4 linked regions of the Homo sapiens genome follow. The protein of the gene in region 1 interacts with the protein of each later gene in a pairwise test. Each region holds a gene or a part of one and is shown in the gene's direction. Other genes may lie near its edges.

The links. Proteins that work in one complex are often made in the same cells at the same time.
Region 2: the proteins of UBQLN1 (region 1) and RSRC2 interact in binary tests that used the Homo sapiens proteins (3 or more experiments, as listed by UniProt).
Region 3: the proteins of UBQLN1 (region 1) and RABL2B interact in binary tests that used the Homo sapiens proteins (3 or more experiments, as listed by UniProt).
Region 4: the proteins of UBQLN1 (region 1) and ODAD3 interact in binary tests that used the Homo sapiens proteins (3 or more experiments, as listed by UniProt).

The regions. Positions count from the first base shown.
Region 1 is NC_000009.12:83,680,459-83,683,958, reverse strand, and holds part of UBQLN1 (ubiquilin-1), read left to right. Parts: intron 1-892; coding exon 893-1,008; intron 1,009-3,500. UniProt on the Homo sapiens protein: Plays an important role in the regulation of different protein degradation mechanisms and pathways including ubiquitin-proteasome system (UPS), autophagy and endoplasmic reticulum-associated protein degradation (ERAD) pathway.
Region 2 is NC_000012.12:122,520,437-122,523,936, reverse strand, and holds part of RSRC2 (arginine/serine-rich coiled-coil protein 2), read left to right. Parts: intron 1-1,637; coding exon 1,638-1,794; intron 1,795-2,504; exon of another isoform or gene 2,505-2,508; coding exon 2,509-2,552; intron 2,553-3,355; exon of another isoform or gene 3,356-3,425; coding exon of another isoform or gene 3,426-3,433; intron 3,434-3,500.
Region 3 is NC_000022.11:50,770,322-50,773,636, reverse strand, and holds part of RABL2B (rab-like protein 2B), read left to right. Parts: intron 1-3,315. UniProt on the Homo sapiens protein: Small GTPase required for ciliation. Activated in a guanine nucleotide exchange factor (GEF)-independent manner via its intrinsic GDP for GTP nucleotide exchange ability.
Region 4 is NC_000019.10:11,422,614-11,425,121, reverse strand, and holds part of ODAD3 (outer dynein arm-docking complex subunit 3), read left to right. Parts: intron 1-1,092; coding exon 1,093-1,245; intron 1,246-2,260; coding exon 2,261-2,421; intron 2,422-2,494; coding exon 2,495-2,508. UniProt on the Homo sapiens protein: Component of the outer dynein arm-docking complex (ODA-DC) that mediates outer dynein arms (ODA) binding onto the doublet microtubule. Involved in mediating assembly of both ODAs and their axonemal docking complex onto ciliary microtubules.

The DNA.
Region 1 (3,500 bases):
ACCTCCGCCTCCTGGGTTCAAGTAGTCTTCCTGCCTCAGCCTCCTGAGTACCTGTGATTACAGGCATGTGCCACCATGCCCGGCTAATTTTTGTATTTTAGTAGAGATAGGGTTTTACCATGTTGGCCAGACTGGTCTTGAACTCCTGACCTCAGTTGATCGCCTGCCTCGGCCTCGCAAAGTGCTGGGATTACAGGCGTGAGCCACCGCACCTGGCCAAGATAAAAAAGTTTTTTATATAGTCAAGCTTTGTGGGTGTAACTGGTCATTGGCTTCCCTCTTATGAGATAACCTACCTCCATCTCTTACATAAGCAATATGATTGAAACTAATGAAATATTTGTGTACATTATACTCAAAGAGGAGGGGCAATTGCAGCATATTTTGTATTTTGTAGGGTTTTATTTTATTTTGTATTTTTTGTTCCTAATGCTTAGTTTTCTCAGGCTTTTTACTAAATGATAATTTGATTTGGTCTGAGAGTTTACCCTTTATTTCTAGATGTCAGGATTTCAGTGGTTCTTTTTTTTTTTTTTTTTTTTTTGAGACGGAGTCTCGCTCTGTTGCCCAGGCTGGACGGAGTGCAGTGGCGCGATCTCGCTCACTGCAAGCTCCGCCTCCTGGGTTCACGCCATTCTCCTGCCTCAGCCTCCCAAGTAGCTGGGACTATAGGCACTCGCCATCACGCCCGGCTAATTTTTTGTATGTTTAGTAGAGATGGGGTTTCACTGTGTTAGCCAGGATGTTCTCTATCTCTTGACCTCGTGATCAGCCAGCTTCGGCCTCCCAAAGTGCTGGGATTACAGGCGTGAGCCACTGTGCCTGGCCTTTGGTGGTTCTTTTAAAAATAATCAGCTCTACTGCTTACTCTGTGATTAATTATTTTCCCTAGGCCTCAGGATCATTCAGCTCAGCAAACAAATACAGCTGGAAGCAATGTTACTACATCATCAACTCCTAATAGTAACTCTACATCTGGTTCTGCTACTAGCAACCCTTTTGGTTTAGGTAAGTGTCTTTAGTCATTCCAGTAGGGATGGGAAAAAATACTCCTTTCCCTTCCTGGGTAGTTTCAGATAAAATGAGAAAATAAAACATTATGTCACTTTAACAACAAAAATTAAAAAAAAAAAACATACATTCCTATAATTGTAGATATTAAGGAAGTAGTTGGGGATATGGATATTCTTACATATCAGTTGGCGCCTTTCTTTTTAATGATGAAAGAGATGTAGTTTGTGTATACCTGATCTGACTACCACATAATTTAGTATGAGTAAGATTAGCTGGTTATTAATCGTAAGCCAGCGTCCCTGAATAATAATTTTTTCATTTGTAAAAGGAAGGGATCAGACTGCATTAGTTATTTTGTAACTGTCCTGAACACATGGAAGGGGGTCTGGGAAGCCAGCCTCGCCTAAAACTGCTTTTGTTTTTCTTATATTAGTTTTTGTTTGTTTGTTTGTTTGTTTTTTTAAGAGAGGCAGGATCTTGCTCAGTCACGGAGGCTAGAGTGCAGTGATGCCATCCATAGCTCACTGCAGCCTCAAACTCCTGGCTTACGGTGTCCTGCTGGTGTCCCAAAATGCTGGGTTACAGATGAGAGCCACTGTGCCTGGCCTGTATTAGATTTATATATTGAGGTTCTGTGGAATATATATATATATATTTTTTGAGACAGAGTCTTGCTCTGTCGCCCAGGCTGGAGTGCAGTGGCGCGATCTAGGCTCACCGCAACCTCTGCCTCCTGGGTTCAAGCGATTCTTCTGCCTCAGCCTCCCGAGTAGCTGGGATTATAGGAGTGTGCCACTACGCCCGGCTAATTTTTTTGTATTTTTAGTAGAGACTGGGTTTCACCATATTAGCCAGGATGGTCTAGATCTCCTGAATTTGTGATCTGCCAAAGTGCTGTTATCCATTTTCTTTTGATAATAGATAGCCAAACTCAGTGGCTTATTACAACAAAGCTTCATTTCTTGCTGCATTTTTCTGCATGCTACGCTTTTTACCGGTTTGTAAGGTGCCCATCCATATAGTCCCTCAGAGACTCAAGCTAATGAAAGTCATTTTTCATTCTGCTGTATTATAGCTCTACCATTTGGAACACGGCAGAAGAGACAGCTACAGGGTTTTAAGTTGAACCTGCTATACTTTGGCCAGAAGTGGCATATATCATTTCTTGTAGTCCTTTGGCATTTCACATAGGCCTGTCCAAGTGCAAAAGAAATAATAAGGCTGCAAAATGAAATGTTTGGTGAGCACTGCTATCTGCTACTGTAGTTAGTCATACTGAAGTTTTTGTGGTTTCAAGAATGCATTAATACATTTATTTTTGTGCTTTTTGTATATGGTGTTCATTGTGCCTAGTATTCAGTCCCCCTCCTAACCTTCTTCACGTTTCCTTGCCAAAGTATTTATGCTCCAGACTCATTAAGTGTTATCTCTTCTTCTGAAAGTAGCCATTCCACTTGGGTTATATTACCATAATATCCTGTGAATATTCTTTACTGAAGTACTTAGCATCTGTATAGACATTTATTTTCTTGTCTGTCTTTCCTACTAGATTGAGTTCTGAGGATGTCTTTCTTGTTGCCTTATTCTCAATACATATGTAACACAGTCTCTGGCATATATAAAAAGTGCTCAGTAAGTGAGAACTGAATGCATTTAGTTGGTTATGTAATTTTACGAAGTAAACACTTTGTGGTAAGCACTTGGTCATCCTGTTGCTCTGTTAGGTTTCTCCTTGATTGAAGTCCTCCAAAGAGAAATCTATTTCCAGGTATTCCCTGGCTCTCTGTCTCCTTGACTGGCAGTATCAGCCCTCTTGTACCCAGTGTTTATAGGTGAATTCTGCTTCCTGTTAATAAAACTTAAACTAGTCTTTTGGAAAGATTATTAGAAGCATAGTCTGGTGTGTGTATTTATTATTTCTTCCTTTAGCTGGCATAATCTGGACTGTTTTTTCTGACACCAGCCAATTGTCCAATACCAGCTCTGTGTCCAAGATTCAGCTTCATTTCTGATACTACCTACCTACAGTTAGTGTCTGATCTCACAAGTTAGCAGACTCAGTCCTGCAAGACTGCCCCTACTTCAGATACTGGTCACAAGTTCTAGGCCATCTGTACTTCTGACTGACCAGCTCTAAGTTGGGGGTTCCCCTGACCTCCTCCTCAGGTTCAATAATTGCTAGAATGGCACCTAGAACTCAAGGAAACACTTATGTTTACCTGTTTATTATAAAGGATACAACTCAGAAACAGACAAATGCTTGGAAGATAATTATTAGGGCACAAGGTATGGGTATGTGGGGGATGGAAGTTGGGCTCAAAGGTTCCATCCAGGTTTCCTCAGCGCACAACCCTCCTAACACTCAGATGTGCTTTTCATTTTGAGTTTTCTTAATTTTATTGTTGAAGAATTTGCATAGAGCTCTATCTCCACCTCCCTACCCTTACTTTCTTGGTGGGTGGGGCTGAAAGTTTTAGCCCTTTAAT
Region 2 (3,500 bases), on another chromosome or scaffold:
AATTTATGTCTTTCATCTCATAATTGAACTGCAAAACCTTTCTGTTTTTAATTTATCATTTTATTCCCTAAGTCTAGCATTGGTTTTGGCACATTTTTGACCCTTAGTAAATACTTGTTGAAGTAACTCGACCTCTCACAACTTCATTTATTAAAGTACAATACACCCATTTATTGTACTTGATACTTGTTTAAAATTTGTTAAAATACAATACCCCCATTTATTGTACTTGATATTTGGTATTCATTTTCTGGACTAACTTTCCTAAAGGAGGAAGTTCTCTAATGTGATTCCTCCTGCTGAAGACTATCGATTCCCTATTTATTCAATCCAGATTCCGTTTGATGTTATACGTGAAAAGTCCATAAACTGTTTCTGTAAAGGGCCAGACGGTAAATATTTTTGGCTTTGTGGGCCATGTGCAGTCTCTGTCACATTCTTTCCCAGGCTGGAGGGGCAGTGGCGCAATCTTAGCTCACTTCAACGTCTGCCTCATGGGTTCAAGCCATTCTCCTGTCTCAACCTCCTGAGTTGCTGGGATTACAGGCACGCCCCACCACTCTTGGCTAATTTTTGTGTTTTTAGTAGAAGCAGGGTTTTACCATGTTGGCTAGGCTGGTCTCAAACTCCTGACCTCAGGTTATCCGCCTGCCTCAACCTCCCAAAGTGCTAGGATTACAGGCATGAGCCACAACACTGGCGTTTTAAGTGCCTTTAGTTTTAACAGTTCAGTCTTTACAGTGCTATTTACTGAAGTTATTTATTAAATATGCCTAAAATAGTTTTAAAAAACGTAAAAAACCATTCCTAGCTCAAGGCCATACAGAAACAGAATGAGGACCATAGCTTGCCAACCCTTCCTAAGTAATCAATTCCCCAGGTGTATCAATTATTTTATTTTCATGTTATCTTCTCTGGTCAGATAGCCGAGCATTGTCTACCTTCTGCATTAGTTGAAACTTGTAAAATTTATATTGTAATAATTACTTATAAAATGCTTTAAAGCAGAAACAACTTAATGTTTTCATAGCCCAGAGCACATGTGAGGAGAGGCAGACCATATTTTGCAGCAGCACTGTGCCAAGGGGCTGTTTTCATTAAAGAGGGTTAATGACATTAAGATGAGGTTCTCACTTAGGTAAGTTAATTTTCTGTTTATTATTTTATAATATTCTTAGGGCATTGTTTTAAGATTTTATCGTCTTGAGTATCTTTAAGCTTTAACAACTCATTTTTGATGTTTGACATGTATGCTAATTTAAAAGTATTGGTAAAGTCAGCTAAATGCATTCACACATCTAAAAAGGACTATTTTCTCTGCTTGAATGCTTATTAGAACTACTTGGAGCCCTTATTCCTCCCCCACCCCACCCCATGTTTTAAAAGTTATACAAATCATCGTTAGAAAATTAAAGATACATCAGTCTAAATATGTAGGTCTTGCTTTAGTATCAGGTTCGTCATTTCAAGCCATTCAGCCTTATTAGTGTACAAAGCACATTTAGTTACTTGGAAAGCAGGCATTCTGATTTATTGATTGTGGGGGGCTATCTTCCCTCCCTTTGTCCCTCTTTTAAGAAATTGAAAACATTTAAAATGTAATTAAGAACTTTAATCATTTGTTTTTAAACTTTTAGGCTAGTGATACAGAGCGAGATGGACTAGCCCCAGAAAAGACATCACCAGATAGAGATAAGAAAAAAGAGCAGTCAGAAGTATCTGTTTCTCCTAGAGCTTCAAAACATCATTATTCAAGATCACGATCAAGGTCAAGAGAAAGAAAACGAAAGTCAGGTATGAATTCTTAAAGGTGGTTACAACTCTCAGCATTTGTATAAGATATGTAGACCTGTTGTATAAGAAGACACATACATTTAGTTTGTTGGCTGGGCATGGTGGCTCAAGCCTGTAATGCCAGCACTTTGGGAGGCCAAGGCAGGCAGATCACCTGAGCCAGGACCAAAAATACAAAAATTGACACACTCTCAGCCCAATGCAACCTCCATCTGCTGGGTTCAGGCAGTTCTTCTGCCTCAGCCTCCTGAGTAGCTGGGATTATAGGCGTGCGCCACCACGCCTAGCTTATTTTTGTATTTTTAGTAGAGACTGGGTTTCACCATGTTGGAACATATCAAATATAATTCAACCTGTTTATTTTCTTTAGTTTTTATTTTTCTTAATGGCTTACCTCTCTCTATTAAACCCCCTTATGAATTTGCTGTAGACTAGGAAACTAGATGGGCTGGTCAGAATATATGTAAAATACTGAAAGTCTATGACCGTTTAAAAGATGTATCTAGGCTGCTTTATGTCCTGGTTTGCTCAGATTGCTTGATTTGTTTCACATGTGTGTTGTATTAATGTAGAATAATCCCACCCGTGCCATGAAAAAATTAGTCATTGGAAGAAGACTAATGGGAGTCATTTTTCTCCAGCATTAAGAGTTTTTTAAGATGAAATGTTTCTCCAACTTTGTTTATGGTGATTATTTTTTTTGTGTATTCACAGATAATGAAGGAAGAAAACACAGGAGCCGGAGCAGAAGCAAAGAGGTAATTAACACTTTGTAGTGAATAGGTACTTTAAAATACTTATAAAGTGTCTGGTAGAAAGATTTGTATGAATATAAGACGTTGTCAAGGTAAGTACAAAACTTGAAATTTAAAAGGTTTATTGGGTTATAAAATAAGCATGATTTTGATTCATCATTTTTGAAGAAGATGTTTATGTGAAAAGTACCTTCAAAACTTTAATTTTATTATATTGTGAAAATATTCACAATAAAAATTTCATATGAAGAATATGATTGGTTTTTTTAGGCCTGTCACACAGAGCTTCCATTAATCTGAGGTCCCGAGTCTCCTGGTGCCTGACAGTTGCTCAGGATTTTTAAACAGCAATCATCTTTACATAGCAATACCCTAGATATCTGTGCGCTGCTTTTTCCTTATGAACGATAACAGGAGTTCTCTTTTCTTTTGCAAACTAGTTCAGTTTCCCTAATAGTAGTATTGAATTTTGAAATAAAGGTTTGAGTGAGGGACAGCTGAAAAGGTGGCGGTGACACCAAAACTTGAGGAAAAAGAAAGGCAGCAGCTGTATTGCAAAGGAGTTACTTGTTCACCCACCTGAGAAGACAAAGAATGAGCCAATAAGGAAGTGTAGAAGTAGTAGCCAGAAAGGGAGAAGAGTCTTGTGGGGGCTGGGTAAGGGACTCCTAAAACAAGAGTGGGCAGGGACTTCACCTCTTCCCGTAATGGAAGCTCTGTTAAATTTTTAATTTAGGAGAGTTTTTGTGAAAATGACTATTTTGTTTAGCTCACATGATAACATTTCTATAATAAATCATACTCAGCGTGCTTATGCGCGAAGAGACTGAACTGAAGACGCTGCAGACTCAGATAGCAAAATAATAAGCCTACTTCATGATAAGGTAACTATTAGTCATTCAAACTCCTATTTCCCTTAAATATATCTTAAATCAGTTAAGGGTTTTAATG
Region 3 (3,315 bases), on another chromosome or scaffold:
AAACTCTGCTCATTTTTCAGGCCCTGCTTCAATGCCACCACCTCCGTGCAGCCTCCTCTGATGTTTGTCATTAGCTTAGCTCTTTCGTGTGTGCTCCTGCACCACTGATCCCTTCCACAACATGGACTGTCTGTGATGCACGTGTGCAGGATGCTGGGAGTGCCCAGGTGGAAAGACACACGTGCTGCCCCCAGGAACTGACTGACTGGTAGGCACAGTACAGATACCAGTGGTGAGGACAGTGAGGATTCTTCCCTTCTGACCCTTTGCAGATGGTAAAGGAAGGAACTCATCACCTAATTCCCCCGACTGCCCCTTGAGAACAAAATCCCTTGAAAAATTCCAAAAGCTTTAACTCTGATAACTGTTAAGGCACTAAACAAGAGGATGATGGGGCAAGGAAAATGGGGGCAGTGTAGTGCAGAAGTCTGACCCTCAAGAGCAGAGGAGCTTGGTCCTAGCCAGTTTGGTTTCAGGCCTACAGTGGCATTTGGTATTTTGAGCTCACCTCTCTTTTTCTCTTGGAGTGACTGCTTCCTGCATCTGCTGCATCTCCGTGGGCTCCCCTCAGACCCTCTTCTGAAGGCCTGGGGTGTCTCTCCTGCCACCATGCCTGTGTCTGCAGGTGCCTGCCACCAGCCCCAGTCTGCTGCACGGGCCCTGGCGAGTAGAAAGCACTTGCCTTCTGACCACACGGGGAGCTGAGGGTCAGAGACGGAACCAGGGCTCGACCCTCCACCTTGAAACCTTGAGATGGGGATGCTCCTCATTCTAGCCAGCTCCTCCTCAGCTCTCAAAACAAGGAACAGATGCTCAGGAAACCAGACCTGGACAAAAGGCATCTGAGCCTGGTGTGAGGCAGATTCCAGAAGTTTAGTTACAGACATCCTTTATAAGGAGTCTTCATCGGGAATTCAAGACAACCTGGTGATTCATTGAAATTTGCCTGTGAAAGAGAATCTACATAGACTTCCTGCCACCTCTTGAGATGTGACAGTTGCTGACCCTCCCGCCACCACACAGGGCGAGCCCCTAGCCCTGAGCTTGAACCGTGTTGCTTGCACAAATAGCTGGGTGATTTAGAAGTGAGGTCAGCTGTGCCAGCGGTTACAGGGTGGTGGTTGTCTGTAACTTTAATCCACTGACTGTTGTACTAGGGCAGTTTGGGCTAGACACTTTGGAGGAGCTCCTGTGAAGGGCATGAAGGCTCACTGTAGCAGCAGCTCAGTTGTCTTTCAGAGTTCTGCCCTTAAGAGCTGGTTTGCAGTGCTCATCCTTCTTGCTGATATTTTAAAATAGGTAGAAACAGGCTGGGCGCGGTGACTCATGCCTTTAATCCCAGTACTTTGGGAGGCCTAGGCGGGCAGATCACCTGAGGTCAGGAGTTCGAGACCAGCCTGACCAACATGTTGAAACCCCGTCTCTACTAGAAATACAAAAATTAGCCAGGCGTGGTGGTGCGCACCTGTAATCCAGCTACTCAGGAGGCTGAGACAGGAGAATCATTTGAAGACAGGAGAATCGTTTGAACCCAGGAGGTGGAGGTTGCAGTGGCAGTGAGCCAAGATACCGCCACTGCACTCTAGCCTGGGCAACAGAGCAAGACTCCATCTCAAAATAAATACATAAATAAATAAAAATAAAATAGGTAAAAACAAATTATAAAGTAATACAATTATGAACTGCAAATAATAAAACATAAAAATTACTTTAAAAAAATTTAAAGAGGCCGGGCACAGTGGCTTATGCCTGTAATCCCAGAAATTTGGGAGGCCGAGGCAGGAGGATCACTTGAGACCGGGAGTCCAAGACCAGCCTCGTTAATATAATGAGAGCTTATCTCTACAAAAAATAAACAAAATTAGCCAGGCATGGTGGCATGTGCCTGTAGTTCCAGCTACTCAGGAGGCTGAGGTAGGATCACCGGAGCCCAGGGGGTGGAGGAGCAGTAAGCCAAGATTCTGCCACTGCACTCCAGCCTGGCTGACAGAGTAAGACCCTATCTCAAAAAACAAAAAGCAGAAAGAACAAAGAAGTAAACAGAAGCTTAAAAGTAAATCAGCCAGGTGCAGTAGCTCATGCCTGTAATCCCAGTACTTTGGGAGGCCTAGGCAGGCAGATCACTGCAGGTCAAGAGTTTGAGACCAGCCTGGCCAACATGATGAAACCCTGTCTCTACTAAAACTACAAAAATTAGCCAGGCATGGTGGTGCGCACCTGTAATCCCAGCTACTCCGGAGGCTGAGACAAGAGAATCACTTGAACCTAGGAAGTGGAGGTTGCAGTGGCAGTGAGCCAAGATAGCGCCACTGCACTCCAGCCTGGGCAACAGAGCAAGACTCCATATATGGAGATCCCTTGAGATCAAGAGTTCGAGACCAGCCTGGCCAACATGGCAAAACCCTGTCTCTACTAAAAATAAAAAAATTAGCCAGGCATGGTGGCGCACACCTGTAGTCCCAGCTACTGAGGAGGCCGAGACAAGAGAATCACTTGAACACAGAAGGCAAAGGTTGCAGTGAGCTGAGATTATGCCACCACACTCCAGCCTGGGTAACAGAGTGAGACTCCGTCTAAAAAAAAAAAAAAAATCAGGGGCAGTTGTGATGGCTAACACTTGTAACCCCAGCACCTTTAGAGGCCCAGGTGGGAGGATCCCTTGAGGCCAAGAGTTTGAGATGAGCCTGGGTAACATAGGGAGAGCCTGCCTCTACAAAAAAAAAAAAATAAAAAAATAAAAATTAATGCGTGCGTGCTACTTGGGAGGCTGAGGTAGGAGGATTCCTTGAGCCCAGGAGTTTTGAGGTTACAGTGAGCTGTGATTGAGCCACTGCATTCTAGCCTGGGTGACAGTGAAACCCTGTCTCTAAAAAGTAAATAAATAAATAAAAGTAAATAGTAACTAAAGTAAAACTCTAGAAACATTTACGGTTACTACAGAGGAACTTTAAAACAGTTTAAGCAATAAATACAAGAGGACTAAAAAACACAAAAGTTTTTACAATTTCTAACAGACTGCATCAATTGGCAAATTGATTCCATTTATGATTGTTAAAATAGGTGAATAAGATTAGATGACAAGATAACAAAAAAGGAATACGTTATTTATTTGTTTATTTCAGACAGAGTTTTGCTCTTGTTGCCCAGGCTGGAGTGCAATGGCATGATCTGGGCTCGCTGCAACCTCTGTCTCCCTAGTTCAAGCAATTCTCCTGCCTCAGCCTCCCAAGTAGCTGAGATTACAGGCATGCGCCACCAGGCCCAGCTAATTTTTTGCATTTTTAGTAGAGACGGAATTTCACCATGTTGGCCAGG
Region 4 (2,508 bases), on another chromosome or scaffold:
TACATATACACATATATACATATATACACATATGTACATATACACATATACATATATACACATATACACATATATACACATATGTATATATGCACATATGTATATATACACATATATACATATACACATATGTACATATACACATATATACATATATACACATATGTACATATACACATATATACATATATACACATAGGTACATATACACATATATACATATATACACATAGGTATATATACACATATATACATATATACACATAGGTATATATACACATATATACATATATACACATAGGTATATATACACATATATACATATATACACATAGGTATATATACACATATATACATATATACACATAGGTATATATACACATATATACATATATACACATAGGTATATATACACATATATACATATATACACATAGGTATATATACACATATATACATATATACACATAGGTATATATACACATATATACATATATACACATAGGTATATATACACATATATATTTATACACATAGGTATATATACACATATATACATATATACACATAGGTATATATACACATATATACATATATACATATATATACATATATACATATATATATGGATTTTTTTTTGAGACACGGTCTCTGTCGCTCAGACTAATTATAGCTCACTGCAGTCTCGACCTCCTGGGCTCAAGTGATCCTCTCACCTCAGCCTCCCAAGTAGCTGGGACTTCAGGCGCCCCACCACGCCCTGCTAATTTTGGTGTTTTTTGTAGAGACGGGGTCTCGCCGTGTTGTCCAAGCTGGTCCCGAACCCCTGGGCTCAAACAATCCTCCCGCCTCAGCCTCCTAAAGTACTGGAATTAAAGGCGTGAGCCACAGCCACCGCCCCCGCGCCCGACCTTGTCCCACTTTCTTGACACCTGCCCGGGTGCCTTTATCTGGCCCCAAGCTTTTGCCCTCTCCCTTCCCTCCAGTTTGAGCCCTGTTCCTCGCGGGCCCCTATCTGGATCCCCCTCCCCGGCCTCCTTCCCAAGCGCTGTCCACCAGCTGACCCTGGCTCTGACCTCAACCCACGAGCAGACCCACCGCGAGCACCTGCTGCTACAGTCCGACGACACCATCCAGGACAGCCTGCATGCCAAGGAGGAGGAGCTGCGGCAGCGCTGGAGCATGTACCAGATGGAGGTGATCTTTGGCAAGGTCAAGGACGCCACTGGCACTGACGAGACGCACGTGAGTTCTGCCCGCAGCCCTCTCCGCCGCGCCCCCCCCCCACCCCAGACGGGCCCCAGGGGTGCCTAAGCCGGTGAAACCGACACACCCTGTCTCCCCTCTCTGCCAGGTCGGTTATTCAGCTCACAAACCTGCTCCTTTCTTGAAAAACATCCCTTCCCCCTCCAGCTACCGTTCAGTTTTTCTGCTGCCCTTCGCAGCAAAACCCCTAGGAGCTGTCTACACTCGCCGTCATTTCTACACTCGCCTTCCGTTCTCTCTTGCACCATGCTAACTCCTTTGCCATGCCAGCTCTAGGAGAACTGGGAGTTTCGTCTCTTGTTCTGTCTCCAGTGTCTGTAACATGGTCTGGGACCCAGTGGACCGCCCAGTACCATCCTCAGATCCTGGCAAGTGGGGTCCCTGCGCCGGGTCCCTCACTGTAAAGTCTTCCTTGCATTATTCTAAGACCGCTGTGTCCCCCTTGGGTCCTGGTTCCCGCCGGTGAACACTGGACCCCAACCCTGTTTCTCCCCTCTGGGTGTCCGCCAACCTGCTGCTCCTCCGATGGGGCCGACCCCTGATGACTTCCGGGACTCCCACCTATAGGAGTACACCTATGGGGTCATCTGGGGCACTGAGGCGCAGCCCCTTTCCAGATGTGGGCCTTGTGAGCGGATGGCTCCGAAGACGGGCGGTATTTCCTGCGGAATCGGGCGAGATTCACGGCCAGAAATTGATGGCACTTTGATTTTGGAAAGAAGCTATGCTCGCCTCTCCAGTTGCCCCCGAGTTTGGGCTGACTCAAATTCCTTATATAGGCCAGAAAGGGCCCCGCAAAAATGATATATCCAGGGCTGCTCACCCTTGAAGCAACCCTGCGTCCAACCCACAGTGTCCCCATACATTGCTGTGCAAAAGGCGCCAGCTCAGGCCACCTGTCCTGCGTGCGAGGGTTCGCAGGGTGGGGGAGAGGAGGTGGAGCGCCCCTACGCTCCCTAGGCCCTGGCTCTGACTGGGGCTGGGTGGCCCGCAGTCGTTGGTGCGGCGGTTCCTGGCCCAGGGCGACACCTTCGCGCAGTTGGAGACGCTCAAGAGCGAGAACGAGCAGACGTTGGTGAGGCTGAAGCAGGAGAAGCAACAACTGCAGCGGGAGCTGGAAGACCTCAAGTACTCGGGGGAGGCCACGCTGGTGAGGTGAGGCACCGGGGCTCTGGGGAGGGCGGCGGGGCGGGCTGAGCCCCCGGGGTGACCTCCCGGCTCCCTGCAGCCAGCAGAAACTGC